3 linked regions of the Homo sapiens genome follow. The main gene of each other region encodes a partner of the protein of the gene in region 2 in a complex. Links are inferred from orthologs where the notes say so. Each region holds a gene or a part of one and is shown on either strand. Other genes may lie near its edges.

Region 1 (11,383 bases), on a different chromosome or scaffold from region 2:
TGTGTTAGGGCAGCGTGGCTGGAGGGTGTTAGGAGGGTGGTGTGGCTGGAGGGTGAGTGTTAGGAGGGTGGCGTGGCTGGAGGGTGAGTGTTAGGAGGGTGGCGTGGCTGGAAGGTGTGTTAGGGTGGCGTGGCTGGAGGGTGAGTGTTAGGAGGGTGGTGTGGCTGGCAGGCGAGTGTCAGGAGGGTGGCATAGCTGGCAGATGAGAGTGCTGGGGGAACTCCAAAGAGCCCTCACCATTGCCAGCAGCCTTGGTGCTTCCATGGCCCAGCTTGCCTCCCTCCACTTAGGCTGCTGAGCTCTTGGCCAGCAGCTGCGTAGCCCGTGTGCCTGAGCGGCGAGTTTGACACCTCTCCTTGCCCATGTCCCTGCCACCCTCAGACATAAGTGAAAGGAAGAATAGAGGAGTCATGGGGTGCCTGGTGGGGAAGGTGTGCTGTGAGAGCAGGTGGCAGCCCGGGTCCACAGGAGGCCCTTGGCTGGTGACAAGCCCAGTGGTTTAGGCGCAGGTGCACCAGCGCAGCTCCCTCCAGGCAGGGTTACCCAAACTGAGCTGTACAGGTTCTGTGGTACTCATGAAACAGGTCTGGCTGGCAGCACTGGAACCGCCTAGAACTGTAAAATGTCTTGGACGCATGCTCCCCGCTTTCCCCTTCCATGGCTGTAGACAAAACCATGCGTGTTTCTTTGGTGGTCAAGCCCCCTGGGGAGCTCAGGCTGTGGTGTGGGTGGGAGTTGGTGCCTCTGGCAGCAGCGGTGGGGAAAGTGGCTGTGTGGACAGGAGGGCTGAGGATGGAGCTGGGGTGACATCTGTGGGGCAGTGCGGCAGTGCCGATGTGGCCTTCTGCGGGGCCCAGTGGGGGAGGGCAGGGGGAGAGCAGGCTGCACAGGGAGCCGACTGCATTAGGAGACGTGGAGGGGGCCTTCTCTCCAAGTCCTGTCCTGCTACCAGGCAGCATCCATGGGGCCATCAGCACAGCTCACCAGCCCCCAAGGTGGGAAACCTTCCACCCACAGCCATGGTGCCCCCCACAATGAGTTCCCGGCCCCAGCCCCTTCACACCACCCACGCCCTCTAGAACCACTGTTTTCAGGTGTTTGGGGGCTGTCTTAGTCAGTTTGGGTTGTTATTTTAAAAGTGCCACAGACAGGCCGGGCACGGTGGCTCATGCCTGTAATCCCAGCACTTTCGGAGGCCAAGGCGGGTGGATCACCTGAGGTCAGGAGTTCAAGACCAGCCTGGCTAATATGGTGAAACTCCGCCTCTACTAAAAATACAAAAAATTAGCCGGGCGTGGTGGTGGGTACCTGTAATCCCGGCTAGTCGGGAGCCTGAGGCAGGAGAATCGCTTGAACCTGGGAGGTGGAGGTTGCAGTGAGCCGAGATCGCGTCATTGCACTCCAGCCTGAGTGACCGAGGGAGATTCTATCTCAAAAAATTAAAAAATAAAAGTGCCACAGTCTGGGCGGCTTGCACAGTAGGCATGCACTGTCTCACAGTTCTGGAGGCTGGAATGTCCAGGAACAAGGCCTGGCTGGGTTCAGTTTCTGCTGAGGCCTCTCTTCCTGGCTTGTGGACAGCCACTTTCTTGCTGTGTCCTCACATGACCTTTCCTTTGAGTGCTAATTCTTTCACGTCTCTTCTTTCTTCTTTCTTTTTAAATTTTTTTATATTTTTAGAGGCAAGGTCTCACTCGGTCATCCAGGTTGGAATGCAGTGGTGTGATCACAGTTCACTGTAAACTCAAACTCCTGGGCTCAAGGAATCTTCCTGCCTCATCCTTCCATCGTGCAGGGATTACAGGGGTGAGCCACCACACCTATCTCTTCTTATAAGGGCACTAATCCCATTCACAAGGGCCCCACCCTCATGACTTAATCACCTCCAAGAGGCCCTGTTCTTAATACCATCACCTTGGGCATTTGGGCTTCAACATATACATTTAGCCTGGACACAGACATTCAGTCCACAGCAGGGTCTTTACCTCAAACCGTACCTGGGTCTTCTCTCTTCAAACCTGGGTTTTCCCCACTGCCACCTGTTGTGCCCCATCTCGGGTGTGGCTTCCTGCACTGGAGGTCTGTGCCCTCCCATCCTCACCTCTCCCCAAACTGAGGCCAGGCCTCCTGCCCCTGGGCCTTGGCCCTTGCTGTTCCCTCAGTGCCGCAGTCTAGCCTGCCTGTGTTCTGCCTTGGGACCAAGGGACCACCAGGCCCCACATCCCTCTAGAAGGTTCTGTAACAGGACCTCTGTGTCTGTTTCCACAGGAGCCTTCTGATGGAGCGTGATGCCTTGAAGCCCAACTCGCCCCTGACCGAGCGGCTCATCCGCAAGGCAGCTACCGTCCACCTCATGCAGTGAGCCAGCCTGGCCGCCTCCACCCTGCAGAACCTCAGTGGTGGCGTCACTGCGTCCAGTCAGCTGCTCCACCGGGTTAGGGTCAGGAGACGGCCAGAGCCTGTTTGTTAGGGCTGTTAGAGGGTGATCTTCAGTTTTACAGGAAGTGGGTCACGGGTTAATTTTAAATGTGATTCCGAATCTCCTTTCAGTCCTCGAGAAGGGCCAATGAGCATTTTTCAGCAGTCACAGCCAGTGTGAGTGCTGCTCTTTCCACCTGCCTTGCAAATTCTGTTTCCCAGGGGAATGTGTCTACTGCCTGGTGGTTCAAAGGTTGGAAGGCAGGGCAGAGGTGGGGGCTGATTCTGCTGGGACAGGTCTTCCAGAGGCAGCCTCCCCCCACTGCCTGTCCCCGTCCCCACCAGGCTGCCCTTGGGATGGACCTTTTCATTCTTTTCTTTATATTCTAGACAGTCTCTGTTGTCTCATTGTGTTGCTGTCCCATTTTTCAGGTGAGGGTACCGGGGTAGGGGAGTGGCCTGCCCAGGGTCACACTATGAGAGGCCCCCACCTGCTGCCTTTGGACGCAGCCCCCTGCTGCTGCATCCACCACCCTTCTTACAGATCAGCGCGCACATGGGGTCCTTCTGCTGTCTCTGGGGCGAGTCTTGGAGCCCCCTGGGGGGCTCTGTTGGTGCTGATTTGGACCCGTTTCTCTTTTTAAACTGCACATCATAACAGGGCTTCATGTCGAGCATGATTTTAATCATAAATGCACTTCTGAGGTGCAAGGATTGAGCTCAGAGCTGCTCTGTTGTGGCAAAACCCAAAGTGCTGTGATGTGTGGCTGTGACAAGCCTGGAGCGGGTCCTGTGAGCGCCGCCTCTGTCTCCTGCTTCCCCACTGAACGCCTGCTGAATGTGCCGCTGACTCAGCTGTGCTGCTTTCAGCCCTCCTGTGAGGGGCGGTCCCAGTGCACAGATGTTTTTCAAGTTCCTCAGTTTGTACTGAAATTAGGGATTCATCAGGGCAGGAAGCAGGCAGGCCTCTCAGAAGGGAGAGGAGGCCTCCAAATCTATTGAGTCCCCACAGTTTGCTCAAGCCCAGGCAAATTTCTGTGATTAAAATGAATTCATCAGTTCCTCCAAGTCTTTGAGCATCTGTGGTGCAGGCCTGGGGCTGGGTCCTGGGGAGATGGCTTCTCCTTGAACTTAAGGTAGGTGGGGCAGGCCAGGCGCAGTGGCTCACGCCTGTAATCCCACCACTTTGGGAGGCTGAGGTGGGTGGATCCCCTGATGTCAGGAGTTCGAGATCAGCCTGGCCAACATGGTGAAACCCTGTGTCTACTGAAAATACAAAAATTAGCTGAGCATGGTGGCACACGTCTGTAATCCCAGCTACTCGGGAGGCTGAGGCAGGAGAATCACTTGAACCTGGGAGGCAGTGATTGCAGTGAGCCAAGATCGTGCCATTGCACTGCAGTCTGGGCAACAGAGCGAGACTCCCATCTCAAGGGAAAAAAAAAAAAAAGTAGGTGGGGCATCTAGTCAAGAAAATGGGAGGTCGGGCGCAGTGGCTCACGTCTGTAATCCCAGCACTTTGGGAGGCTGAGGCAGGTAGATCACGAGGTCAGGAGATCAAGACCATCCTGGCTAACACGGTGAAACCCCATCTCTATTAAAAATACAAAAAATTAGCCGGGCATGGTGGTGGGCGCCTGTAGTCCCAGCTACTCGGGAGGCTGAGGCAGGAGAATGGCGTGAACCCGGGAGGCAGAGCTTGCAGTGAGCGGAGATCGCGCCACTGCACTCCAGCCTGGGCGACAAAGCAAGACTCCGTCTCAAAAAAAAAAAAAAAGAAAGAAAGAAAAGGGGTAATTATAGTAGTATTTCCAGAGAGGCGCCTTCTCTACCCAAGAACTAGGGACACATCCTAAGGGGAGCCTCCTTCCCCTCTCCTGGTTCCAAGCAAGAAGACATGACTTGGCTGTGCAATTGGGAACCCTGGTCCCTCCTCCAGGAAGCCTTCTACCCGCCAACCCCCACTGCAGGCTGGTGAGGGTGCTGCCTCTGTGCCCCTCAGCCCTTGGCACTTGCCCTTGCTCTTGCACCCCTGCCATGACCTCTCCAGGTCAGGGACAGCATCTGTCCCCAGCATCACCTGGCACATGGCCTGCACTGAGTAGCTGTCAGTGAAAGTTGGTGAATGAAGGCATAAATAAATGAAGTCAAACTCTGTATTAGGCCTTCTTGCATTGCTATGAAGAAATACCTGACGCTAGGTAATTTATAAAGAGGTTTAATTGGCTCACAGTTCTGCAGGCTTTTCAGGAAGTATGGTGCTGGCATCTGCTTCTGGTGCAACCTCAGGAAGCTTAAGATCATGACATAAGGTGATGGGGAGCCAGTATATCACATAGTGAGAGCAGGAGTAAGAGAGAAGGGGAGGTCTTAGACTCTTAAATAACCAGATCTTGTGTGAACTAAGCAAGAACTCATCACCAAGGGGATGGTGCTGAACCATTCATAAGGGATCTGCCCTCACGACCCAATTACTTCCCACCAGGCCCCACTTCCAACATTGGGATCACATTTCAACATGAGATTTTGAGGGGACACACATCCAAACTACAGCAAATCCTATTGGGGGCAGAAATGAATCTGCCATACATAGGCCACACCTACTATGTGCTGACATGATACAGGGAGAGGAGTATCAGGAATGACTGTTGGGGATCCCTCTGCCATTCTCCCATGAGCAGACATCCCCAGGATGAGCTGAGGGGAATGCAATGAGCAGGCCAAACTCTTTCCAAGCTGTTTGACCACACCCACCTACCCCAGCACTCTCAGCCCCTGCCTGGTGCCCTGTGCTGAGCTGGGTGAGGCTGGGGAGACTGGTGAGTGAGGGCTGCCCTGCCCTTTTTGAGCCCCCAGTCTTCTGGTGAAGGAACATAGCAACATGGAGTGATTGGTATGGATGATGCAAAACCAGGGACATGGGACCCAGAAGTGCCCGAGCCAGCCTGGAAGGCCTCTGCCCTGGGCCCCGGGTGGCTGTTTGCTGCACAGCTCTCCCCACAGCCTGCCCCAAATAAACAGCTTATCTTCGTCCCTGAAAATGGTGCTCTCGAGTTCCATCCTTTTCAGAGCGGGTCCTCCCAGACTCCTCTTCCTGCATCCTCCTCCATCCCGCTTAGTGACACTTTGCCGTGGGTGGAGCCCCTCATTTGATCCTCAAGCCCCCGAGGTGGGTATTATACCTCGTTCGCAGGCAAAGGCTCAAGCGAGGTCAGTCTTAAGTTGCTGCCCACTGACCCGTCTACCAGTCCTGTCCTTGCGTCTCCATGGCTCAGGTCAGGGTTATCCTATCTGCTTCCCACCTCTCTCCAACACATGCACTCCCCAAGGCAGGCTCCATCACCGGGCCCCAGCCCCTGGCTCTCTCCTCCAACGCAGCTCCCCAGCCGGCCTGTAAAACCGAGGACAGGCTCCCGCCACGCCCTCGGCGGTCCTCAGGCCTTGGCGGTTGGGGAAGCCCGCCAAGGGCGACGGTTCCCCTCCAGCCCCACAGGCTGTGCAGCTCCGGCAATGAGTCTCCCTCAGGTCTCTGGGTCAGCCGGCGCCCCAGTGCGTGCCTCGGGGGCAGGGATCCCGGCTTTTCACTACTGTTAGTAACAGCTCGCGCGCGCTGCTTCACAGCAGGTGGGTGAGCCTACTTTTAGTCTTCCCATCGACACCCTTAGATGGCAGTTTTAACTTTCTCCCTACACACAAGGAGCTGCTATACATGGTTCCGGCTTGACGCGGATACCTAGTGACACTTGGCGGCCAGGCCGGGCAGACTTCCGGGTGGGTGATCCCTGGCGCTGTGCGGAGCCATTCGCTGCGCTGAAGCAGTGCGCATGCGCACTGGACGCTTCTTACCAGCGTCCTGACTACAATACCCAGGACGCACCCAGCCCGCCGCCTCTCGGAGCCCTTTTCAAACCGACCAATCGGCAACCCGCGTCTCCCGGCGCCGCGTTTAAATCCGTGCCGGAGGCGCGTCCTGCATCGTCTGCCGCTTTGGGTAAGGTGGGGTCAGGGTCGGGGGCGAGGCTTGCCCGGTGGGCCCGGTGCGGCGCGGTGCCCGCCGTTTTCGGGACGGGGAGGGGCCGCGCCCCGCCAGGAGCCGGGCCTGGGCTCGAGCAGGGGTCACTGAGGCCCCTCGCGCCGTGGTCGGGGATGCCGGGAGGTCTAGGGCTGCCCCCCAGGCAAACAGAGCCCCCAACACTCTGGCCCAGAAGCCGAGAATTCCGTTATCTCGTCTGATGGCGTTCGGGCTGACTCCCGGCCTGGCGGCACTCGGGCCCTGGGGTCCCCTGGGATGCGATCATTTCAGAGCGGCCCCCGCGCCGCCTCTCCCAGACCTGGCCGCGGCCTTCAGCTCTCTCTGCCTCTGTGAGCCGAGGGCTGAAGGAAGCCGGAGCCCTGGGCCCTGACACGTACTCACTTTCTGGCCCCGTTCCACCCTGCAGTGACTTCTGACAGCTCTCTCCATGGAAGGAGGCGGCGGCCGCGATGAGCCTTCAGCCTGCCGGGCAGGGGACGTGAACATGGATGACCCTAAGAAGGAAGGCAAGTCCTTGCTGCTGCGGCGCTGTTGTTGTTCAGGATGTTCAGTAGAGATGGAGGGTGATTTAATGTTTCCCTGAGAAATTCTTTCTCAAGTGCTCGACTTGTACTCTGCACCTGTGAAACACATGACATCTGCCTTCGTTTTCTGGTTTTCTTTCACCTCCTCCCCATTTTAAGTTTCATCACAGCCAGGATTCTCATCCGTTTTATTTACCGCAGTGCTCCCATGCCCTGAACAGCACCTAACACTTTGTGGGCTCTCAAATATTTATTGTATTGAATTCGATGTTTTCTTTTTTGTTTGTCGCTGGTTTCTGTTTGCTAAGACTTATTTAGGATCTTTGAGACCATGTTAATGAGTAAGCCTGGCCCCAAACCCCTTTCTTCTTGTGTCTTTGACTGGTTTGGGTATCAAGGTGAGGGTACAGCTTCACAGAATGAGTTACAGGCCACACCCTCTTTTTCTCTCAAAGCGTTTTTATTTATTTATTTATTTATTTATTGACGGAGTCTCGCTCTCTCACCCAGGCTGGAGTGCAAAGGCGTGATCTGTACTCACTGCAACCTCTCTCTCCTGAGTTGAAGGGATTCTCCTGCCTCAGCCTCCCTAGTAACTGGGATTACAGGCACCCGCTGCCACACCTGGCTCATTTTTGTATTTTTAACAGAGACGGGGTTTTGCCATGTTGCCCAGGCTGGTCTCGAACTCCTGAGCTCAGGCAATCTGCCTGCCTCGGCCTCCCAAAGTGCTAGGATTATAGGTGTGAGCCACCTCACCCAGCCTCACAAAGCATTTTGACATCCCTTGGGTAGTTTTCTCACACTACCCAAGGATCCTTTCTTTTTGAGACCAAGTCTCACTCTGTCTCCCAGGCTGGAGTGCAGTGGCATGATCTTGGCTCACTGCAACCTCTGCCTTTCGGGTTCAAGCGATTCTCCTGCCTCAGCCTCCCGAGTAGCTGGGATTACAGGCACCCGCCACCACACCTGGCTGATTTTTGTATTTTTAGTAGAGATGGGGTTTTACCATGTTGGCCAGGCTGGTCTCAAACTCCTGACCTCAGGTGATCCACCTGCCTAGGCCTCCCAAAGTACTGGGATTACAGGTGTGAACCACCGCGCCTGGCCCCAAGCATCCTCAATGCCTCCATTTTGCAGGAACTGTCCTGGAGACTTTACAAATCAATGTTGCATCTTCATATCTAGCAAGGCGCTTGCCTCTGCACCCCTCTCCTCCTTCCTGTCATGTCCTTCCTTTCAAATATGTCCTTTCCACGTGCATACTGCACCCCCTGCTCCTTCTTGAGGCCTTCCCCACTTCCGTTGACCTGACTTCATTTCCTTACTTTTCCCCTGTCCACTACTGGATCATGCGCATCCACATACAGATAATGTTCCCTTGTCTCACTTGTCGCCACGTCTCCTCCGTTGCCTCTCCATTGCTGTGTTTCTCCTTCCAAGCCAAACTTTGAGAGCTTTCTCACTTGTTATGCCATTTTTTTCCGCCTCTCAATCCCTCCCATTCCGGCTTCTGTCCTTACCACTCCATTCAAGCTGCTTTCATCAGTCGTTGACGACTTCCACATTGCTGAATCTCTTTTCACTTTTCTATCGCCAGTCAGCTTTTCAGTAACATTCGTCCTTCTGGAAACTTCCCTTGCTTGGAGTCCAAGACGCTCTTGGTTTTTTCCTCCTGCCTCTCTGGCTGGTGTATCTTTTCTCTGTCGGGGGCTCCCCCTCTGCTGTCTTCTGAGGCTGATTTCCCCAAGACCTGCTCTGGGACCGCTTTGTGCTTTCGCCCTCAGGGCGGTCAGCATTCCAATAGCTGTGCAGCGTATCTGCTCTCTGCGGCACCCACGTTTTGTCTTGAGCGCAGCCTCTCCTCCGAGCTCTGGGCTTGTATATTCACCTGCCTATTTGGCGTCTTCACATGCACGTCTCATCTCAAACTTGGCATACCCCCTCTGCATCTGCATACCCTGTTCTTTTTGTCTTTCTCATCACCCATTTTATTTCTCCATTTCACCCAGCTGTGCAAGCTGAGAACCTCCTACATTCATGCCATCACCAGCTAACGTCTTCTCCACCTTCAGAAGATATCCTGAATCCATCTACAGACTCTCCATCTCCATCCACATGCTGCTGTCTGGGTCTCAGCCACGCTGTCTCACCGGCTTCTACTTCCCGTTGGCTAATATGTGCATTTGTAATGTCAGGGGATATTATCTGCTTCCTTTCGGATACACTTTCTACACAGTAACGTCACCTTTTAAAAACACAAGTTAGATTATAAAGCTCTTTTCTTTTCTTTTTTCTTTTTCTTTTTTTTTTTTGAGACAGAGTCTCACTGTTGGCCAGGCTGGAGTGCAGTGGCGTGATCTCGGCTTACTGCAACCTCCGCCTCTTGGGTTCAAGCAATTCTCCTGCCTCAGCCTCCTGAGTATCTGGGACTACAGGCGCCCGCCACCACGCCCAGCTAATTTTTTTTTTTTTTTTTTTTTTTTTAGTAGAGATGGGGTTTCACTGTGTTAGCCAGGATGGTCTCAATCTCCTGACCTCGTGATCTGCCCGCCTGGGCCTCCGGAAGTGCTGGGATTACAGGCATGAGCCACTGTGCTCAGCCTTTTTTTTCTTTTTGAGATGGAGTCTCGTTCTGTCACCAGGCTGGAGTGCAGTGGCGACATCTTGGCTCACTGCAACCTCCGTCTCCTGGGTTCAAGTGATTCCCCTGCCTCAGCCTCCTGAGTAGCTGGGATTAAAGGCATGAGCCACCGTGCCCAGCTAAGTTTTGTATTTTCAGTAGAGACGGGGTTTCACCATGTTGGTCAGGACGGTCTCGAACTCGACCTCAAGTGATCCGCCTGCCTCAGCCTACCACTGTGCTGGGATTACAGGCATGAGCTACCACGCCAGGCCTAAAATTCTTTTCTTAAAGCCCGGTAATAGTTTCCTATCCCACTTTGGAGAAAATAAAAGCTCCTTGCCATGGCTTGCAAACCCTCTGTGATCTGACCCAACTTGTGTTTTCACCTCTTCCAGCCACTCTGACTTCTGACCCGTTCCTCTCACACACGCTTTGATATTTTCTCAGAGGTGTTCCCACCTCTACATGTCTCTCACCGCACTGCCTGAGGCACCCTCCAGGGTGGGCTGCATGTACCCCAAGCCTGCCTGGCACCTAGCGAAGGATGTGGTCTGTTGTGGGTGCTCATGTGTTTGCAGGATGAGCAAGTCAGCCAGCCCGGGACCCCTCGGAGCCAGTCACAGAGCCTGGAGCAGAAGACTGCTTCCCTGAGTTCTGGTCCTGGATTCTTTTTCCACGCCAGACCATTAGAAGTTTCTGAAATTGACTTCCTAATTTAGAGGTGTAAAAAGTGAAATGTCTGCCTCTCTATATCTCTAAGTCACCTACTTGCCCTTCCAAGGGCCATCGATGTCATCAGTCTCTTGGGTATCCTTCCAGACATAATTTGTGCAGGTGCAAGCCAACACGCATAGAGTGTTGCATCCCCCTTTCCATATAGCATGGAGAGCCCTGTCCTGAATCTTGTTTTTCAGGCTTAATTTATCTTGATGAATATTGTGTATCAACACATGAAGAGCATTACTAGCTTTTGTACCTATATAGGGTTCCACCTTGGGGATATGTCATTCATCTCATCTGCTGTGGGTGAACATTTAGTTTGTGCCTAGAGTCTTGCTGTTACCAATGATGCTGCAGTAAATAACTGTGGACACCGTGTAACTGCACAACACATTGCTTTCCACACCTGTGAGTGTCTGTAGGATACACTTGCAGAAGTAGACTTGCTGGGTCGAAGAGGGTGTGTGTTTCTTACTTCGATAGGTACTGCCAGGCCCTCTAGAGAGCTGTGATAATTTACACCTTCCCCAGCAGTGTAGAAATTGTCTCTTTCCCCACAACCTTGCCTATAGTTCATACATCTTTGAGTTTTGCCAGTCATATAGGCGAAAACTGCATTCTCAGAGCAAGTTTATTTTTAATACTTTTTTTTTTTTTTTTTAAGACAGAGTTTCCCTTTTGTCCCCTAGGCTGGAGTGCAATGGTGCGATCTCGGCTCACTGCAAACTCCCCCTCTCAGGTTCCAGCAATTCTCCTGCCTCAGCCTCCCAAGTAGCTGGGATTACAGGCACCTGCCACCAGGCCTGGCTAATTTTTTGTATTTTTAGTAAAGATGAGGTTTCACCATGTTGGCCAGGCTGGTCTCGAACTCCTGACCTCAGGTGATCCACCCGCCTCGACCTTCCAAAGTGCTGGGATTATAGGTGGGAGCCACAGCGCCCAGCCTCATTACTCTTATTTTTGAGTGAGGCTGAACTTCTTGCCATCTATTTAAGAATGTTTCGGCCAGGTGCGGTGGCTTGCGCCTGTCATCCCAACACTTTGGGAGGCCAGGGTGGGCGG
Region 2 (8,747 bases):
CACCTAAAACTTTACTAGGTGGACTTTGATATGACAACAACCCCTCCATCACAAGTGTTTGAAGCCTGTCAGATTCTAACAACAAAAGCTGAATTTCTTCACCCAACTTAAATGTTCTTGAGATGAAAATAAAACCTATTCCCATGTTCTATGGTTGGCAGTTGTCATCTTGGGCTTAAAAACAGTACTGTTGGTTAAATGGTCTTGGTGGTTCAAGTGAGAGGCTGAAACAGATATTTAAGATGAGAGAAACAGGTCATGATACAATTGGATTAAAATGGAGGAAACAGCATTTCCCTATACATGGTTAGGTCCCTTTGTGTTGGTAGCCCTTCCCCAAGACTATGCTGCTGTCCCCCTGGAGGTCGAGGTTCAAGGGTATTCCCACTAGAGGCAAGCTGCAGTTTGTTCCCCTGCTGTCACTTTTTGGGTGACTGATACAGCCACCCTCAATGGAGTCCCATGGTTTATAACCTGTTTAAATTTTGTCTCCAGGTTGAGTTTTATAGCATTGATACAACCTACTGTGCAGTGTTTCATGTTCACCTTCCCTGACCCATACTGGCCAAAGGTTAATCAGCAGTGGTTCTAAATCACAGCCTATTAAAGTTTCTCACTTCCCCCCTTTCTTGTAACAATGAAGCCACTGAAACTTGAGTAACCTTATGGACCTTAACAGATGGAAATGGGTGGGCCCAAGTAAGAATTTATGGTAACTGTAAAGTGAACGTAGTTTGTCATCCCTGCTAGTATTTTTTCCTAGAACTAACTTTGACAATTAAGGGTGCCTTTTTTCCCTTTTGATCTTTAGATACACTTGATACAATCCTAATAATTACTATGTTATACCAGTTACCCAGAATATGAGGCAGAGGGTCCCAACTCCCCAAGCCACATAGCTTCCTGATAGTCATCTTGTTAGAAACTATTTAAGCCTTCTTTTAGGAGGATACTGACAGTAATTTCTAAAATCAGTGTATCCCCAAGAACTGTAATGATGCCAGGGAGAATTTTGGTAATAGGCCCATTTTAAGTGGCTCCACCTCTCTATGGTTAACTGCAATATAAGCAGCGTTATAGCACCATCTCAAGGTCTAAGGTCATTGGTGGAGTATTGTGGGCAGAACACTAAAGACAGCCTTGAAATTTCTAATATTTGATTCATTTAATACACTTCGCACAGGCATATGACAGCACAGGAGAAAAATTGCAACTGTGAATGATGCCACAATAGCAACTATTTCTAAACAGAATGTTTACTGGCTGCAAAAGTGATGCAACAAAATGCAACGTTAAGACTGAGTTGAACTCAGTGCTAAGTGCATGATTCTGGCTCAGGTAATTTCTGAGGTTTGCCTCAGATAGACTGATGGCTCCAAATTCAAAGGTAGTGGCATTCCCAACAGGATGGCATGGGGTGGCTAAGTAACTGTCATGGCATATCTACTAAAAGGAATACTATGAAAATTCTGGTAATTGTGGATATATGCTTGTTTTCTAGTTCATCTGTACTTGGTATTTTATAGAACTCATAATCTTATAGTTTTCAAAGTATACTCTGCAGAACCCACAGGGTCTCCACAGAGTCAATGTTTTCATAATACTATTATTATTTTTTTTTTCTCTGTGTTGATATTTGCACTGAGGGTGCAAAAGCAGTGGTGGGGAAAACTGATGGCACCTCCCACAAATCAAAGCAGGGGCACCATTGTATTCTTCACTGACCTGCACTCACATTAAACACTTTCACTTAATGTCCTGGATGAAACTAAATAGGTTTTTTTGTTTTTTGAGACAAGAGTCTCATTCTGTCACCCAGGATGGAGTGCAGTGACGTGATCTTGGCTCACTACAACCTTTGCCTCACAGGTTCAAGTGATTCTCATGCCTCAGCCTCCTGCCTCCTGAGTAGCAGCTAGGATCTTATAGGCATCCACCATCACACCTGGCTGATTTTTTATTTTTAGTAGAGATGGAGTCACCATGTTGGTCAGGCTTGTCTCGAACTCCTGGCCTCAAGCAATCCGCCTGCCTCAGCCTCCCAAAGTGCTGGGATTACAGGCATGAGCCACCACACCTGGTGGGACAGGGATTTTAAGTTTTAAAAAACTCTTCTGTGGAGCTTATGTTAGGTAATTTGCCTAAGAGAGTTGTAAAGCAGTGCAAGACTAACTAGGCAAGGGGGTATGTGTAGCTATTGAGGATTAAGGGATAGTGAAATGAACTTTAGGAACATTCTCAGCCATAAGCAAGAGCTGGATTCACACAACCAATTTTTGAAAAAAATCAAGATACCCATAATTTGGGCACCTTTATAATTCATGATGAGAAAGAGCATGTTAACTACATGTTTAAATATATTTTATTTCAAGTTAATATAACAGCCATGATTTGTTCATTTAAGTGAAATGCTTCGATAAAAACCTCGGTGTCACTTGGTTAAAATATTGGAGACAGATTAAATGTTAAGCCACTATAGTAGTGACTCTGGTTCTTTAGACTATTGCATGTACCTTGTTAATGAACTACAGGAATGCACATTGATATAATGCACAATGTCTTCACATGTCTCAATCCTCATTCCTCTTCCTTTCATGCCTCCCTAATGCCTCAGTATCCAATATAAAACTACAAAAACTACTGTTCTTTTCGTTTGAGTGGTATTTAATTAAAACTTCAATTCTATGTTATTTCCACAGTCCAGTAATTTATTTTAAATTTGAGTAATTTCAAATTCCACAAACAAAACTGAAGAACAGCAATATTTTGTTTGAATTTCTCTCTTCTGTACACTCAGTGATCTAAAACACCACAATATCCAACATACACAAACCTCAGGGAAGGGTTAGTAAACACACACAAGATTGGAATCATGGTGCTCTTTGCTCCTGAATGGAATGGTCCCACAGAAAAAGCACAGGATACAGCACAACATAAGGGCACCTGTTACATATGAAGTGAGCAAAACATACTAGCATTTTCTATATGCATAATGGGGAAACCTGCATAGGTTAGAGGGCCTTTTACGCTCATTTAAAAATCAGGCAAGTTGTCTGTAACATTTTTCAATAATCTGGGAAGCACTGCAATCCAGTGTACGATGTGCTGATTAGTGTTGTCTTTGTTGGCACTGACAGTCTTGCATGGTCATATGCCAGTGTTTTTGCTTTAGCTTTTCTTTGAATAAAACAGATTTAAATGCATTTAGACAATACGTATTTGTAAGCTGTTTACATACACTAAATTTAAGAGATTCAATATTAGAGTTTCTTTGTTTCTTTAAACACTACAGAGTGCAAATCAGGTTCTTCACAACAGATTGAATATTGAGCAGTTCTTTAAAGAAAGAGGGGGAAGAAAAAAAGCCCAAGTGAATAAAACATTGAAACTATTCCCCTTCGAAAATAAATTCTAAAATGATGTGGAATGTGAAATAAGGTTTTAACATAGGTGATCCAAGTTTATAGTTAGAAACAAAAAGAAGTCCTTCATGAAATAAAGGTTACAAGAACACGTTGCCTGTTTTCCCCCATTATAAACTGAGAAGTGGGTAAAGACGATGTTTCAGTACGAAAATAGGTGACTACAGGATCAGCGCTTCATCTCACATGCTGTACCCAAAGCCAGGCTGTGGCTGTCCATACGGTGGTGCGGTATAACCATAACCAAAAGGTGCCTGGGGAGGGACGGCAACACTGGGTCCTGCTGTCAGCATCAACTGGGGCTGACCTACAGTAGAAGAAAACAAAAAGGAGCAGGGGGCAGGGGCAAGGAGGCAGGACAAACTGTTAGCATTTAGAACACTCCAATCTCCTCCACTCTAGCAACATAATCTCAACCTCAAATGAGTTGTATGGGGGGCACATTTGATTGCTACAATTTTAGCATGACAGTCTTACTCTAAGAAGGTTCCTACCTAAAAAGCCAACAAACAGTGCAGGGCCAAAGGCCAGAACTGCTTATGACTGAACACCGTATGCCTGACACTCTGTATACTTGACACATACCTACATGCATATTACACTTCATGACACAATAAAATCAGCACAATAAAAGAATTTTTTAAAAGACTTTTTAAAAAAAAAAAAAAAAAAAAGAATCTGGCTCTGTTGCCTAGGCTGGAGTGCAGTTGTGTAATCTCGGCTCACTGAAACCTCTGCCTCCTGGGTTCAAGTGATTCTCGTGCCTCAGCCTCCCGAGTAGCTGGGATTATGGGTGTGCGCCACCATGTCCAGCTAATTTTTGTATTTTTAGTAGAGACAGGGTTTTGCCACGTTGGCCAGGCTGGTATTGAACTCCTGGCCACAAGTGATCAGCCCATCTTGCCCTCCCAAAGTGCTGGGATTATAGGTGTGAGCCACCATGCTTGGTCTAAATGACATGTTTTTAACATAACTTTTAGAGTTACATTTAAATTTCTGATTTAAACATGTCTAAATGGCAATGAAACCAAATTCATTTATAGAAGATCCAGTACTAATTTAGAGACAGCAGTTAAATTAAAAATAAGACACATTTGGGCCGGGCGCGGTGGCTCACGCCTGTAATCCCAGCACCGTGGGAGGCCGAGGAGGGTGGATCATTAGGTCAGGAGTTGGACACCAGCGTGGCCGATATGGTGAAACCCCGTCTCTACTAAAAATACAAAAAAAATTAGCCGGGCGTGGTGGTGCATGCTTATAATCCCAGCTACTCAGCAGGTTGAGGCAGGAGAATCACTTGAACCCAGGAGGCAAAGGTTGCAGTGAGCCGAGATCACGCCACTGCACTCCAGCCTGGGTGACAGACGAGACCCCATCTTGGGGGAAAAAAAAAGACATATTCAGACATTCTTTAGGTATGAAATACATTAGAACATACACCCTCTATCAAATACTATGTTGACACTCTTTCTTATAAAGTTTAAATAGTTGTTGGCCATATACAGAAAACATGACCTGTAGAGAACTTGGCTTAGAGAGCGAAAACAAGTAACACCTCTCTCTACCCCTACAAAAGTATTTTTAACATCCCACTACAGTGTAAACCTAGATCAAGATTTCTCCTACACAAAGGACTTCATGTCTTTGCTTTTTGTGGTTAACAACCAAAGCTGTCTTCAGCAAACAAATTATTATTGGAAACCAGTTTATTATTATTTTTTGAGACGGAGTCTCGCTCTGTCGCCCAGGGAATGCAGTGGTGCAATTTTGGCTCACTGCAGCCTTTGCCTCCCAGGTTCAAGCAATTCTCCTGCCTCAGCCTCCCAAGTAGCTGGGACTACAGTTGCATGCCACCATGCCCAGCCAATTTTTGTACTTTTAGTAGAGATGGGGTTTCACCATGTTGGCCAGGATGGTCTTGATCTCCTGACCTCATGATCCGCCCACCTTGGCCTCCCAAAGTGCTGGGATTACAGGCGTGAGCCACTGCACCCAGCCAACAGAAACCAGTTTTTAAAAAGTCATCCCTAATCTTGATAATGACATCTACTTGAAATTCCAACCCAATTTTCAACTACCCATGAAAACACCCTGAAGGCAAGCCAAATTCAGTAGGTAACCCCAAAGTATTACACCCATCTTTTTTTTGTTCCTACTGTGTTTCCTATGTCTTTTTCACCTTTAAGGACTTGATGTGTTTCCTATCTCAAACATGTCAAACATCTTGCTCCCATCTCTAAGAACCCACTTTATCAAAACTATCCTGTCCTCTAAATTCCTAAAGTACTTTTTATCTACAGTAAAAAGGAGACAAAACCATAATAAGTGTATATATTATTATTTGTGTCAGTAGCCTGATATATAATGGTTATATATATATATATGTATATATATATATATATTTTTTTTTTAAGGCGGAGTCTTGCTCTGTCACCCAGGCTGGACTGCAGTGGCACGACCTCGGCTCACTGCAACCTCTGCCTCCCGGGTTCAAGCGATTCTCCTGCCTCAGCCTCCCAAGTAGCTGGGACTACAGGCATGTGCCACCACGCCCGGCTAATCTTTTGCATTTTTAGTAGACACGGCGATTCACTGTGTTAGCCAGGATGGTCTCAAGCTCCTGACCTTGTGATCCGCCCGCCTCAGCCTTCCAAAGTGCTGGGATTACAGGCATGAGCCACCGCACCCAGCCATAATGGTCATATTTTTATGTTCCCTCACCTGGTTATTGTGCTTCTACCTATACTCTTCAAAGTGATTGTTCAAATGAATCTGTTCACCAACTATGAAATGGAAAGGAGCAGTAATTCAGACATGTAGGTTTAAGAAGACATGAAATTGTCTTAAATATTCACTTGAGAGTTTGAAGATCCTATCTCTCTGGAAAGTTCTCAAATGGAAACTCTACCCAGTTCTCTGCCCCAGTTAGAATTTAAAATGAGGATGTATTCTTTATGTAAAGCATACTAAAGACAGCCTTGGCATGTTCTCTCACCTTTTGCTCTTTTGAAAATGGAATTCATCAATATTTCTTTTTCAGTAATTTATGAGCAGGTAATGCGTGAGGGACCAGATGATAGGAAAGATTCATGTTATGATTTTAAATGACTATTTTTGAGTTTTCTTGTATTTAAGATTATTTTAGTGAATAATATCAACACCTGCTTTATGACTTCTCAGAAAAAAAATCAGACAGTAGAGAGCAGTATTTCTTAGAAAGCCTTTTGCACTTTAGAAGCTTGTTGTATTCTATTTTGAGGCACAGTCTCTAAGTAATTAAATATTTGTCTAATGAATTTTTTGAGGTTACAGAGAGAGATTACCATAAACAATGGGTTGTGTCTCTGTAGCTTGTTCTTCTTCTTTTCTCAGTGATTCTGAAGCATCTAATTTATCCACCTGGAGAAAAACACATCATGTTAATTAGCACCCCAAAAGTATTATAAACCTAGGTTTATGGCAGAAAGTGGAAAAGCCTTAGTATGTTAAATTCTGTCAAAATAAAACAGACTAGAAAGAACATTCTCAGTCCCCCTCAAATTCAATGGCAATGTTCATACTTCAGTCCAGGTGGTTTTCAGCACTGTCATTATAAACCCTCAGGAAGGAGGGATTCAAAATGCCATAAAAGCTCATGCCAGACTAAAACTGGGCATGCTAGGATGCAGCCTGAGGGAGGGAGAAAACGAGAAGGAACCACTTTTCAAATGAAGTTTAAAACTGATCAGAGGTAATAATGAATTCATGGTCTGGCAATACTTCCCTCCCCAAAGCAAATGGTATTCAAAAAAGTGAAATGATCCTAGTGACTGGACAAGTATTTGGGCAGAATAAGCTATTCTTTTGCCAATTGTGTATAACTTCTGATGATATTGGTTATAGCTGCAGACTGAAGTTTAAGATTCAAGTGGCTCCATATTCAATCTTTTTGCATAAAGAAAGGCTGCATGTTTTAATACTGTGTGGGCTCTGTTATCTAAGAAGTAATCAGGAAAGCCTGATTTTGTCCCAAAAATGTTTGCTTTTAATTGAGCCAAAAGTAAATGGCTACTATATGCTAGCTACTCTTCAAAGTGGATAGTATCAGACAGAAGTAATTCTGTAGAGCAGGCCAAATGTATTAGTGAAAGAAAGGAATTAGAATGCCTGGATCCTTCCACTAACTAGTTGTGTGACCTTGGCAAACCATTGCACTGGCCCTCAAATTTCCTTTCCTATATAATGAGAAGATTGAACAAAATGATCTGCAGTTTCTTCTAGGGCTAACATGATTTGATTCTGTAATTCTGTAATGAATTAGACAGAAGTGACATTACAACCCTGGGACTAGAGAATCTCCTTCACTATACAAATTCCATTGCGCCTTTTACACTATATTTGTCTTTCAATATTTAAAAGCTGGTCTCTCAACCAAAGCCTTATACTTGGTCTGTCATTATACCTAAGTAAAACTAAATTTCAAATCTCAATGTTATCTATTACTGGTGGTTTTCAATGTCATAAATGTGCTGCATGAGACGGGGGGCCAAGGTGCAGGGGGAAACACTTTATGAATGCTCACTGCATGTTCTTCAAAAAGGCAAATTATGAAAAATCACTCAAAAAAAAAAATTGTAGACTTCAGTGGAAAAGTTTCTAAAAACCAGGTCCTAAAAAGATTAAGGCAGCACCTCATTTCTGTTTGAAACTATTAAAAAAGTATCTTTCAGTCTTCACATAGGCCATTAAGGTTAGGGCACTGTTTTATATTTAATTGTTTCATATTAAATACCATAAATATGAGTCTAATCCATCTTAATTTGTTAGGGAACTGAAAGTTTGAGAAAAGTAAGCCTAAGTAGGCTCCTTCAGATGAAATGTGGTTTAATTTCTAGCCTAGGAAGATGGATTAGTTTACTTTTATACACTATTATCCTACTTTATAGTCTAAATGATGTGTTACAAATTACCCTAATATCAAATTAAAGACTATTATGTAGTATAAGTACCATATGAAATGTCCATTTTTTGGCATCCACACTTAGAACAAAAATTATTAGTTATAGAACTTAAAGCACAGCTCTGTGCCATCAAGGATCAGATGGGGTTTTGCTAACTAACCAGTATTCAAGAAAGAGCTACAGAAGTTATAAAGAAAAATACATGGATGCCTGTATATTAGTAACTTCTAAGAAAAAAGAAGAAAAATGAAACAACCAAAAAGCCACCACTGCATAATACATTTCCGGACTTCCAGGGAAAAGAATCTGAAGTGAACATGTGTTTAAAAGTTAAGGTCTGAATCAGATGTTGAACACAGAAGTCCTATTAGAGAAACACATGGAA
Region 3 (9,373 bases), on a different chromosome or scaffold from region 2:
AGGCAGGAGGATCACCTGAGGTTGGGAGTGTGAGACCAGCCTGACCAACATGGAGCAACCCTGTCCCTACTAAAAATACAAAATTAGCCAGGTGTGGTGGCACACACCTGTAATCCCAGCTACTCAGAAGGCTGAGGCAGGAGGGAGAATCGCTTGAACCTGGGAGGTGGAGGTTGCGGTGAGCCGAGATCACACCATTACAATTGCTAGAAACACAAAAACCTATCAAGACTAAACCATAAAGAAATAGAAAATCTGAGTAAACCTATAACTAGTGAGATTGGATCGGTAATCAAAAATCTCCTGACAAAGAAAAGCCCAGGATCTAATGGCTTCACTGGTGAATTCCATTAAACATTTAAAGAAGAACCAACTCTTCTCAAACTTCTCACAGAAATTGAAGAGAACACTTCCTAACTCTTTCTATGATGCCAGCATTATGCTGATACCAAAGCCAGATAAAGACACTACAAGTCCCAGTAATAGCATGAAAAAAAGAAGACACTAGTAGAAAAGAAAACTATGGATCATTATCTCTTGTGAACATTGATGCAAAAATCCTCAGCAAAATACTCAGTAACCGAATTCAACAGCACAATAAAAGGATTGTGTACCTTGACCAATGGGGTTTACACCCAGAATGCAAGGGTGGTTCACCATACAAGAATCAATCAATGTAATGTACTGCATTAACTGAATTAATTTAAAAAACACGGCTGGGCACGGTGGCTCACGCCTGTAATTCCAGCACTTTTGGAGGCCGAGGTGGGCGGATCACGAGGTCAGGAGATCGAGACCATCCTGGCTAACACAGTGAAACCCCGTCTCTACTAAAAATACAAAAAAATTAGCCAGGCGTGGTGGCGGGCGCCTGTAGTCCCAGCTACTCAGGAGGCTGAGGCAGGAGAATGGCGTGAACCCAGGAGGCGGAGCTTGCAGTGAGCCGAGATCGTGCTACTGCACTCCAGCCTGGGTGACAGAGCGAGACCCCGTCTCAAAAAAAAAAAAAAAACCATGCGATCATCTCAATAGAGCAGAAAAAACATTTGGCAAAATTCAACACCCTTTCATGATAAAAACAGTCAATAAAGTAGGAACAGAAGGTAGTTATATAATGTAACAAAAGCCATATATGAAAAATCTGGCCAGGTATGGTGGCTCACACCTATAATGCCAACACTTTTTGGGAGGCAGAGGCAGGAGGATCACTTAAGCCCAGTAGTTTGAGACCAGCTTGAGCAACATAGTGAGACCCAGCTCTATAAAAAAGAAAAGAAAAGAAATCCACAGCAAACATCATACTCCATGGTGGAAGACTGAAAGCTCATCCACTAGGATCAGGAGCAAGTAGAGAGTCAACCTAAAATAACGACAGGGAGAGTGGCTCTAAGAAAAAGTGAGATTACTTGGGAATGAATGACAAATTGTATATTAGTCCATTTTCATGCTACTGACAAAGACATTCCTGAGACTGGGCAATTTACAAAAGAAAGAGGTTTAATGGACTTACAGTTCCAAGTGGCTGGGGAAGTACACAATCATAGTGGAAGGCAAGGAGGAGCAACTAATGTCTTACATGGATGGCAGCAGGCAAAATGAGAGAAAAGCTTGTGCAGGGGAACTCCTCTTTATAAAACCATCAGATCTTGTAAGACTTATTCACTGTCACAAGAACTGCACAGGAAAGACTTGCCTCCATGATTCATTTACCTCCCACCGGGTCCCTCCTACAACATATGGGAATTCAAGATAAGATTTGGGAGGGGACACAGCCAAACCATATCAGATTGTGTGAAAGGAAAATAAAATCTCAGGACCTCAAACTCACTACTCAAAAGGAAAAGTTAAGCTTGGAAACTAAGCCACACAAAAAAACTGCCTTTCCTTTTGTTCCTAAACAGATAGGTATAAGATAGAAGGCCACATGTCTCCCCAGGTGGCCTCCCTCACCCTGACAATGTAAATTAACAGCTTATCTTCACAGGTGCGGGACAAAAGGAGACTAGAAATCATCCCCCCCACGCCCCTGTCAGACAAATGCATATTTGAACTCTTCCTCTACTCTCTGTTTATCTTATGTACAGATTTACTGAGTGCAAGATGAATATGTAATTGACTATTCCTCTACCCTGTCCTTTTCACATGGAACGTATGGATTCAGTGAGCTCTAATCAAAGCCTCAAAAGAATGCAATGGCTTATCTCACTTGTCTACCTTCCTTTTTTTCCCCTTTCTTCTTTCTCCTCCTGCCCACTTTTTCCCCTTTAAATAATGAAGTCCTCAAAATCTTCTTTGGAAAAAAGTGCATGCCACAGATCATACTGTGTCTTGTGTCTCTTCTTCTTGGGTGTGCCTGCAACCTTGGCAAAATAAACCTCTAAATTGATTGAGACCTGTCTGTGATACTTTCTTGTTTACAGTTGCATCCCAGGGAATACATGTACTATGGTGAACCATGGAGGGGGGCACTCAGAGAGAAAAAGGAAGGAAAGGGGTTTTAAAGGCAAAATGAGGAAGGCTACGTAAGTTGTTTTGAAAAAATTATCCTTGGCTACAAGGATTGATAACAAGGGTAGCATTATTCCAAGATTGAACAGGCAATTGCTGGGCAGGTGTCATTGCAGAAATATTCTTCGTGCATGGGTGTGACGGCCTTTGTGCAAGATTGTGGTTTCAGACAATCCTTGTTTTTTGTTGTTGTTGTTGTTGGGTTTTTTTTTTTTTCTTGAGACGGAGTTTTGCTCTTGTTGCCCAGGCTGGAGTACAATGGGGCAATCTCGGCTCACTGCAACCTCTGCCTCCCAGGTTCAAGCAATTCTTCTGCCTTAGCCTCCTGAGTAGCTGGGATTACAGGTGTGTGCCACCACACCCAGCTAATTTTGTATTTTTAGTAGAGACGGGGTTTCATCATGTTAGGTTGGTCTTGAACTCCAGACCTCAGGTGATCCGCCCATCTCAGCATCCCAAAGTGTTGGGATTACAGGCATGAGCCACCGTGCCCAGCCTCAGACAGTCCTTGTAATATTTTCTATCATAGGCATGTGTGCATGGGAGCCCCTCATTTATGGCCTCCTGAGTCCATTTTGCTAGGGTTTGGCATAAGTGACTCCAGTTTGATTTGGACAACTTGTGCAGAAGGATGCCCACTTTTGGTATTTCTATTCAACATAGTACTGGAAGTCCTAGCCAGAGAAATTAGGCAAGAAAAAGAAATAAAAGCAACCCAGATTGGAAAGTAAGAAGTATCTCTGTTTGCAGATGCTATTTATTTATTTAGAGACAGGGTCTCACTCTCATTGCCCAGGCTGGAGCGCAGTGGTGTGATTGTTATAGGACAGGGGTCCCAATCCAGACCCCAAGAGAGGGTTCTTGGATCTCACGCAAGAAAGAATTCAGGGTGAGTCCTTGGTGCAAAGCGAAAACAAGTTTATTAAGAAAGTAAAGGAGGGGCCGGGCACGGTGGCTCACGCCTGTAATCCCAGCACTTTGGCAGGCCGAGGTGGACAGATCATGAAGTCAAGAGATCGAGACCATCCTGGCTAACAGGGTGAAACCCCGTCTCTACTAAAAATACAAAAAAAAAAAAAATTAGCTGAGCATGGTGGCAGGCTCCTGTAGTCCCAGCTACTTGGGAGGCTGAGGCAGGAGAATGGCGTGAACCCGGGAGGTGGAGCTTGCAGTGAGCCGAGATCGCACCACTGCACTCCAGCCTGGGCAACAGAGCGAGACTCCACCTCAAAAAAAGAAAAAGAAAGTAAAGGAATAGAAGAATGGCTACTCCATAGACAGAGCAGCCCCAAGGACTGCTGGTTGCATATTTTCATGGCCATTTCTTGATGAAATGCTAAACAAGGGGTGGATTATTCGTGCCTTCCCTTTTTAGACCGTATAGGGTAACTTCCTGATGTTGCCATGGCATTTGTAAACTGTCCTGGCACTGGTGGGAGTGAGGATGACCAGAGGTCACTCTTGTCACCATTTTGGTTTTGGTGGGTTTTGGCTGGCTCCTTTACTGCAACCTGGTTTTTGTTGTTGTTGTTTGTTGGTTTGTTTGTTTTTTGAGACTGAGTCTTGCACTGTCACCCAGGCTGGAGTGCAGTGGTGAGATCTCGGCTCACTGTAACCTCCGCCTCCCGGGTTCAAGCAATTCTCCTGCCTCAGCCTCCCAAGTAGCTGGGATTACAGGCACCTGCCACCATGCCCAGCTAATTTTTTGTATTTTTAGTAGAGACGGGGTTTCACTATATTGACCAGGCTGGTCGCAAACTCCTGACCTCACAATCCGCCCACCTTGGCCTCCCAAAGTGCTGGGATTACAGGCGTGGGCCACCTTGCCCAACACTGCAAACTGTGTTATCAGCAAGGTCTTTATGACTTGTATTTTGTGCTGACCTCCTATCTCATCCTGTGATTTAGAATGCCCTAACCGTCTGGGAATGCAGCCCAGTAGGTTTCAGCCTCATTTTACCCAGATCCTGTTTACGACGGACTTGCTCTGATTCACACACCTCTGACACAATCATAGCTCACTGCAACCTTGACTTCCCGGGCTCAGGTGATTCCCTCACCTCGGCCTCCTGAGTAACTGGGACTACGGGCACCATACCACCATGTCTGGCTAATTTTTTGTAGTTTTAGTAGTGATGGGGTTTTGCCACGTTGTCCAGACTGGTCTCAAACTCCTGGGCTCAATCTATCCACCCACTTCCACCTCCCAAAGTGCTGGGATTACAGGTATGAGCCATGGCACCTGGCTAATAAGCTCTTATCTGCAGAAAACCCTAAATATTCCACACACAAAAAATGTTAGAGCTAATAAATGAATTCAGCAAAGCAGCAGGATACAAAGCCAATGCACAAAAATCAGTTAAATTTCTATGCATTAACAATACGCAATCAAAAAAGAAGATAAAACTTCCACTTACAATAACATCAAAAAGGCCAGGTGTGTTGGCTCATGCCTGTAATCCCAGCTCTTTGGAAGTCTGAGGATGAGAGGATCACTTGAGCCCAGGAGTTGAAGCTGTAGTGAACTATAATCGTACCACTACACTCTAGCCTGGGCAAGAGTAAGATCCTGTCTCAAAACAAAAAACAAACAAACAACAACAACAAAACCATGCAAATGGACAGCAATAAATAAATACATTAATTTAATTAAATAAAACAATAAAAACCCCCCCAAAAACAGTAACATCAAAAGGTGCTCAAGTTGTTACCAATTAAACTGAAAGTTCCAGCTGGGCTTGGTAGCTCACACATGTAATCCCAGTGTTTTGGGAGACCAAGGCAGGAGGATCCCCTGAGGCCAGCAGTTCAAGACCAGCCCAGTTAATATAGCGAGGCCCTGTCTCTAAATAAAAAAATTAAAAAGAAAAAAAAAAAAACACCTGGAAGGTCCCTTCACCCCAACTCCACTTCCACCCCCAACTTGGCGGCACATCTTTCCTTTCGCTCTTCCAGTCCATATTTCATAGTTGCCTTTCAAGTCCCACATTAGAAATAGCAGACAGCCCAAATCCCATGGTGTTTCTTTGCATCGTCTCCCTATACCCCGTGTTTAAATGTCACAGCGCCTCACACACAGTGCTTTGACAGGCCATTTGCCATCTGTTGGTCTCACCGGATTGTAATCTCCGCATGGCCATGGCTGGATTTTATAAAACGTTGCTGTCCTGGTGCTTGGCAAAGCGCAGGCAGGGAGGAGGCATTCAGAGCCTGTTCACAGAGGGCAGCGGGCAGCGTGGAGAGTGGTAGGCTGCCTGGGTAAACCAGGTCTGCCTTTCTCAGGCTGGTTCATACCTAAAGGACATTTAAGGGGCCTAGCTGGCCATCCAAACTCTGGTCGTATGAACTGAAGCCTCCTCAAGGGAGATACACAAAAAAATACACAAAACAACACGGCCTAGTGGGAAAGGACCTGGACTTGCATGAAAAGGTGCGGGGCAGCCTTTCCCAGCCTCAATTTTCCTCTTCTTACAGAGGCGGAGGCTCATAGAATGAGGTGCATGACATCCCAACCTAGGAGAAGAAACTTCTGCAGAATGAATCAGGAGCCAGGTCTGCGCTCCCGAGGCCAGAGGTGGCCTCCTGTCGCAGCTCTGTGCACGGTACGGCCACTCTGTGCCCTGCGTTTCGCCTCCAGGCCGGGCGGGAGCAGTGCCTAGCCCAGGTGTCCTCGACGCGAGCAGCTGGGCGCCGCTGCGGAGGGAGGGAAGCGCCGCGCCGGTCCCGGGCCCAGCGCTGCGCCCAGTCCTGAGGCGCCCTCCTGCGGCCGCTGCTCGGCGACCTCCCGGCCCTGCGGCCCCGCCCCCGCGGTGACGTCACCGCATTCCGGCTCCGCTCCTCCCGCCGCGGCGCCCGCACCGCAGTGACAGCCAGCCGGGCCCGGTGGCGGAGAGGAAGTGCGGTCCGCGCCAAGCCCGTCCCCGCCGACGCCGGCTCCCCCGCGGCTCGGGTGACAGCGTCGCGGCCGCCGGACGCAGCGCGGGGCAGGCGCGGGCAGAGCCGAGCGCAGCGGAGGCTCCGGCGGAGGCGCGGGGAAAATGGCTGATGACTTTGGCTTCTTCTCGTCGTCGGAGAGCGGTGCCCCGGAGGCGGCGGAGGAGGACCCGGCGGCCGCCTTCCTGGCCCAGCAGGAGAGCGAGATTGCAGGCATAGAGAACGACGAGGGCTTCGGGGCACCTGCCGGCAGCCATGCGGCCCCCGCGCAGCCGGGCCCCACGAGTGGGGGTGAGTCAGCGCGGGGCCTGGAGAGGGGCTCAGGGCGCGCACCCGGGGGACCCCGGCCGGGGCCCAGGGGCACAGGGAAGAGAGCCTGCTCTAGGCCACCCGGGGCAGGAGCTGGGAGACGTGGGGAAGAATCTTCTTGGAGATCTCCATGTAGGACTTCCGAGCTGGGGATGAGGCCTCGCCTGGGGCTGTGGATCTGGTGACTCCCGGGACAGGAATTCGGTCATGACATTTCATCCCCAGGCCAGCTTCCCCACTGCCCGGCTCTGGAATCCAACCCCACCTCAGTTTTGAGAGTCCCTCCTGAGCCTCCTAATAGCCTGGGTGTCCCAGGCTCCCAGCTAAGTGTGCAGGTGTGGGCAGAACACAGCCCTCCTGGCCCCTCAGGCTTAGCTCTCTCCTGCAGCTGGGAAAAAAGAGGATCCTGGGTGCTCCAGGAACTCACTAACCTTCCCCGGTGACCGCCTGGCATTCGGCAGTCGCTGGGCTAAGCGCCTTGGTTACATTTAATCACTTCATACACGTGATTGAACCCATTTCAGAGATGGTAAAACTGAGGCTCAAGGGAGTATGCTATTGAAATAACTAGTAAGTGGCAGATCAAGAATTTAAACCTGTTTCTTTTTCTTTTACATATATATTTTTTCTTTTCCTTTTTTTGAGATGGGGTCTCGCTATGTTGCCCAGACTGGTCTTGAGCTCCTGGGCTCAAGCAATCCTCCCACCTCTGCCTCCTAAAGTGTTGGGATTACAGGTGTGAGTCACCACACCTGGCCGTGAATTTAAACCTGTTCCTGTCGGACTTGAAGCCCTCTCCACCTGACCACACTGCCTACCAAGTGTCTGGCTCTGAGTTAGACACCGGAGTGTGGGCCACAAAGAGGCATCAGTCAGATGCGGTAGGGCCCTTCAGGGTTTTGTAGTTGTCGACTTAATGGTTTTCCAAAGGTGGTCCGGGGCTATTATGATTTACTGTGATTGGCTTCAGACCTCAGTGTTCAGGGCCTAGTCCCTGTGAAATCATCTTTATCAATGATGTTTCTGCCCTGGTTCTGGCTAGCAAGAATGATTTTGTAAAATATTTAGTAAAAAAGTAGATATCACCTTCATGGGTACATCCAAAACAGGTTTTACTTCCTGTTGATGTCATTTTGGAAAGGTTTATGGGCCTGTTGTAGTAAGTGCTAACATATATACATATAGACATATTTTGGTTAATGATGTTTACAAGGCTCTTCACAGTCATGTTTGTATCCATTCAACGTTTACTGAGCACCTACTGTGTGTCAGGACGCTGGGGATACAGAAATGAATAAGACAGTTCCTGTGGCTGAGGAGTTTGAAGCAACTCTGTATCTCCTTGATATGAGAAATGTAACCAGGCTTTTGTAACATGCAAGAAACCGGTGGCCCAGAGAATCTGAGTATCTTGCCCAGAGTCACACAGCCAGGAATGACCAATCTAGGACTTGATCCCACGCCTCCCAACTCTGGGCTCCATGCTCTTTCAAATGCTGTGGAGCCTGGGCAACATGGTGAAACCCCATCTCTACAAAACATACAAAAATTAGCCAGGCATGGTGGCATGTAGCTGTAGTTGTAGTTCCAGCTGCTCGGGAAGGCTGAGGCAGGAGCATAGCTTGAGCCCGGGAGGTGTAGGTAGGTCGCCGTGTGCTGTGATCACGTCTCTGTACTCCAGCCTGGGCAGCAGAGTGAGACCCTGTCTCAAAAAAAAAAAAAAAAAGATTCTATAGCAGTCACCTCCCTGGCAGGAGATAGGATGTGGGGTGAGAAGCATGGGGTCTTTTGCCACCTATCTGAGACAGCAATGGAGGGCTTCTGAAGTGGAAGCTTCCAGCACCTCAATACAGAATCTGCCGTGTCCCAGGGAATTCCTAAGAAATGCCTGCCCCAGTTAATGCACCAGTATTCACTGGACCACACCTCTGTGAGACCACCCTTTTCCTCAGTCTGGCTCACTGGGGCCTGTTGGGGTCGGGGTGCAGGGAAGAGGAGGGAGGCCTTGTGGGGAGGTCCTGCTGAGGGGAGCCATTGTGAGAACCTCAGGAGAGAAAAGATGGGATTCAGGCTGAGGGCAGCCAGATGCCTGAGGGAGCTGAGCAGGTTGTGGCCTCTCCCAGGATGGTGGGGCTCCAGGGACTTACAGTCTGGATGGCAAGTTCTGTCCTTGGCAGGGGTGGGGCACAAATTGGCCTCAGACCAGAGGTGACAGGGAGAGAAACAATGACACGCTCGCTTCTTCCAGGGAGGTGCCGGGGATACAGCCTTCTGAGGGTCTCCCAGGCGCATACCTGCTGACTCTGCAAAGGCTCAGCTGCCCTCCTTAGTTGGATCGGGGAGCAGGGAGGTGTTGAGGGATGGCGGCTCAGTGGATGGCCAGATGGGCTAGAATTGATCTGACCTTCTCAGCCTATGCAGTGCTGAACAGGTAATCTTCCCCTGACCAGGGATGTGTGCCAGGAGCCTGGATGGGGCAGAGAAAAAGCGCCCTGGCCTGCTGAGAGCTGGGCAAAAGCTGGCTTAGCAGCGGCCGCCAGTCAGTACCTCTGAGGCACCTTCTCTTAGATGTTGGGGTCCTCAGATTAGCAATCTCTGTGCTGACACTGGGCTCAGTTGCCCC

What was found.
Region 1: the proteins of CLTC (region 2) and GTSE1 are in contact, whole or in part, in a crystal structure (PDB 6QNP), measured with the Homo sapiens proteins. Residues at the interface, in NP_004850.1 of Homo sapiens: Val50, Arg64, Pro65, Ile66, Ser67, Ala68, Leu82, Lys83, Ala84, Thr87, Gln89, Phe91, Asn92, Ile93, Lys96, Ser97, Lys98, Asp143, Arg144, His145, Trp164, Gln182, Leu183, Tyr184, Ser185, Arg188, Lys189, Val190, Ser191, Gln192; in NP_057510.5 of Homo sapiens: Ser686, Arg687, Pro688, Leu689, Ile690, Asp691, Leu692, Met693, Ser707, Pro708, Val709, Val710, Gly711, Gln712, Leu713, Ile714, Asp715, Leu716, Ser718.
Region 3: the proteins of CLTC (region 2) and CLTB are in contact, whole or in part, in a cryo-EM structure (PDB 6SCT), measured with the Sus scrofa proteins. The link is inferred for Homo sapiens from one-to-one orthologs. Residues at the interface, in NP_001139599.1 of Sus scrofa: Gln1291, Arg1293, Gly1294, Phe1296, Lys1326, Phe1327, Gln1354, Ala1355, His1356, Pro1382, Thr1383, Glu1413, Phe1414, Lys1415, Pro1416, Leu1417, Gln1444, Pro1446, Leu1447, Thr1473, Glu1474, Glu1475, Glu1503, Leu1504, Ile1505, Arg1508, Leu1533, Lys1535, Met1538, Lys1562; in XP_005661527.2 of Sus scrofa: Pro100, Ser102, Trp106, Gln110, Leu114, Ser121, Thr124, Glu125, Trp128, Arg129, Ala132, Asp135, Leu136, Trp139, Val147, Asn150, Lys151, Asn154, Arg155, Asp158, Tyr162, Glu191, Trp192, Lys194, Val195, Leu198, Cys199, Asp200, Phe201, Cys209.

The regions. Positions count from the first base shown.
Region 1 is NC_000022.11:46,290,523-46,301,905, forward strand, and holds the start of GTSE1 (G2 and S phase-expressed protein 1), read left to right. Parts: upstream 1-6,347; 5' UTR 6,348-6,409; exon of another isoform or gene 6,410-6,857; 5' UTR 6,858-6,878; coding exon 6,879-6,957; intron 6,958-11,383. Other genes in the region: TTC38 (tetratricopeptide repeat protein 38), read left to right, coding at 2,269-2,362. UniProt on the Homo sapiens protein: May be involved in p53-induced cell cycle arrest in G2/M phase by interfering with microtubule rearrangements that are required to enter mitosis. Overexpression delays G2/M phase progression.
Region 2 is NC_000017.11:59,688,710-59,697,456, reverse strand, and holds the end of CLTC (clathrin heavy chain 1), read right to left. Parts: intron 6,822-8,747; coding exon 6,746-6,821; intron 3,730-6,745; coding exon 3,605-3,729; 3' UTR 501-3,604; downstream 1-500. Other genes in the region: PTRH2 (peptidyl-tRNA hydrolase 2, mitochondrial), read left to right, coding at 1-18. UniProt on the Homo sapiens protein: Clathrin is the major protein of the polyhedral coat of coated pits and vesicles. Two different adapter protein complexes link the clathrin lattice either to the plasma membrane or to the trans-Golgi network.
Region 3 is NC_000005.10:176,413,536-176,422,908, reverse strand, and holds the start of CLTB (clathrin light chain B), read left to right. Parts: upstream 1-6,369; 5' UTR 6,370-6,545; coding exon 6,546-6,732; intron 6,733-7,845; exon of another isoform or gene 7,846-8,171; coding exon of another isoform or gene 8,172-8,456; intron 8,457-9,373. Other genes in the region: ARL10 (ADP-ribosylation factor-like protein 10), read right to left, coding at 8,172-8,456. UniProt on the Homo sapiens protein: Clathrin is the major protein of the polyhedral coat of coated pits and vesicles.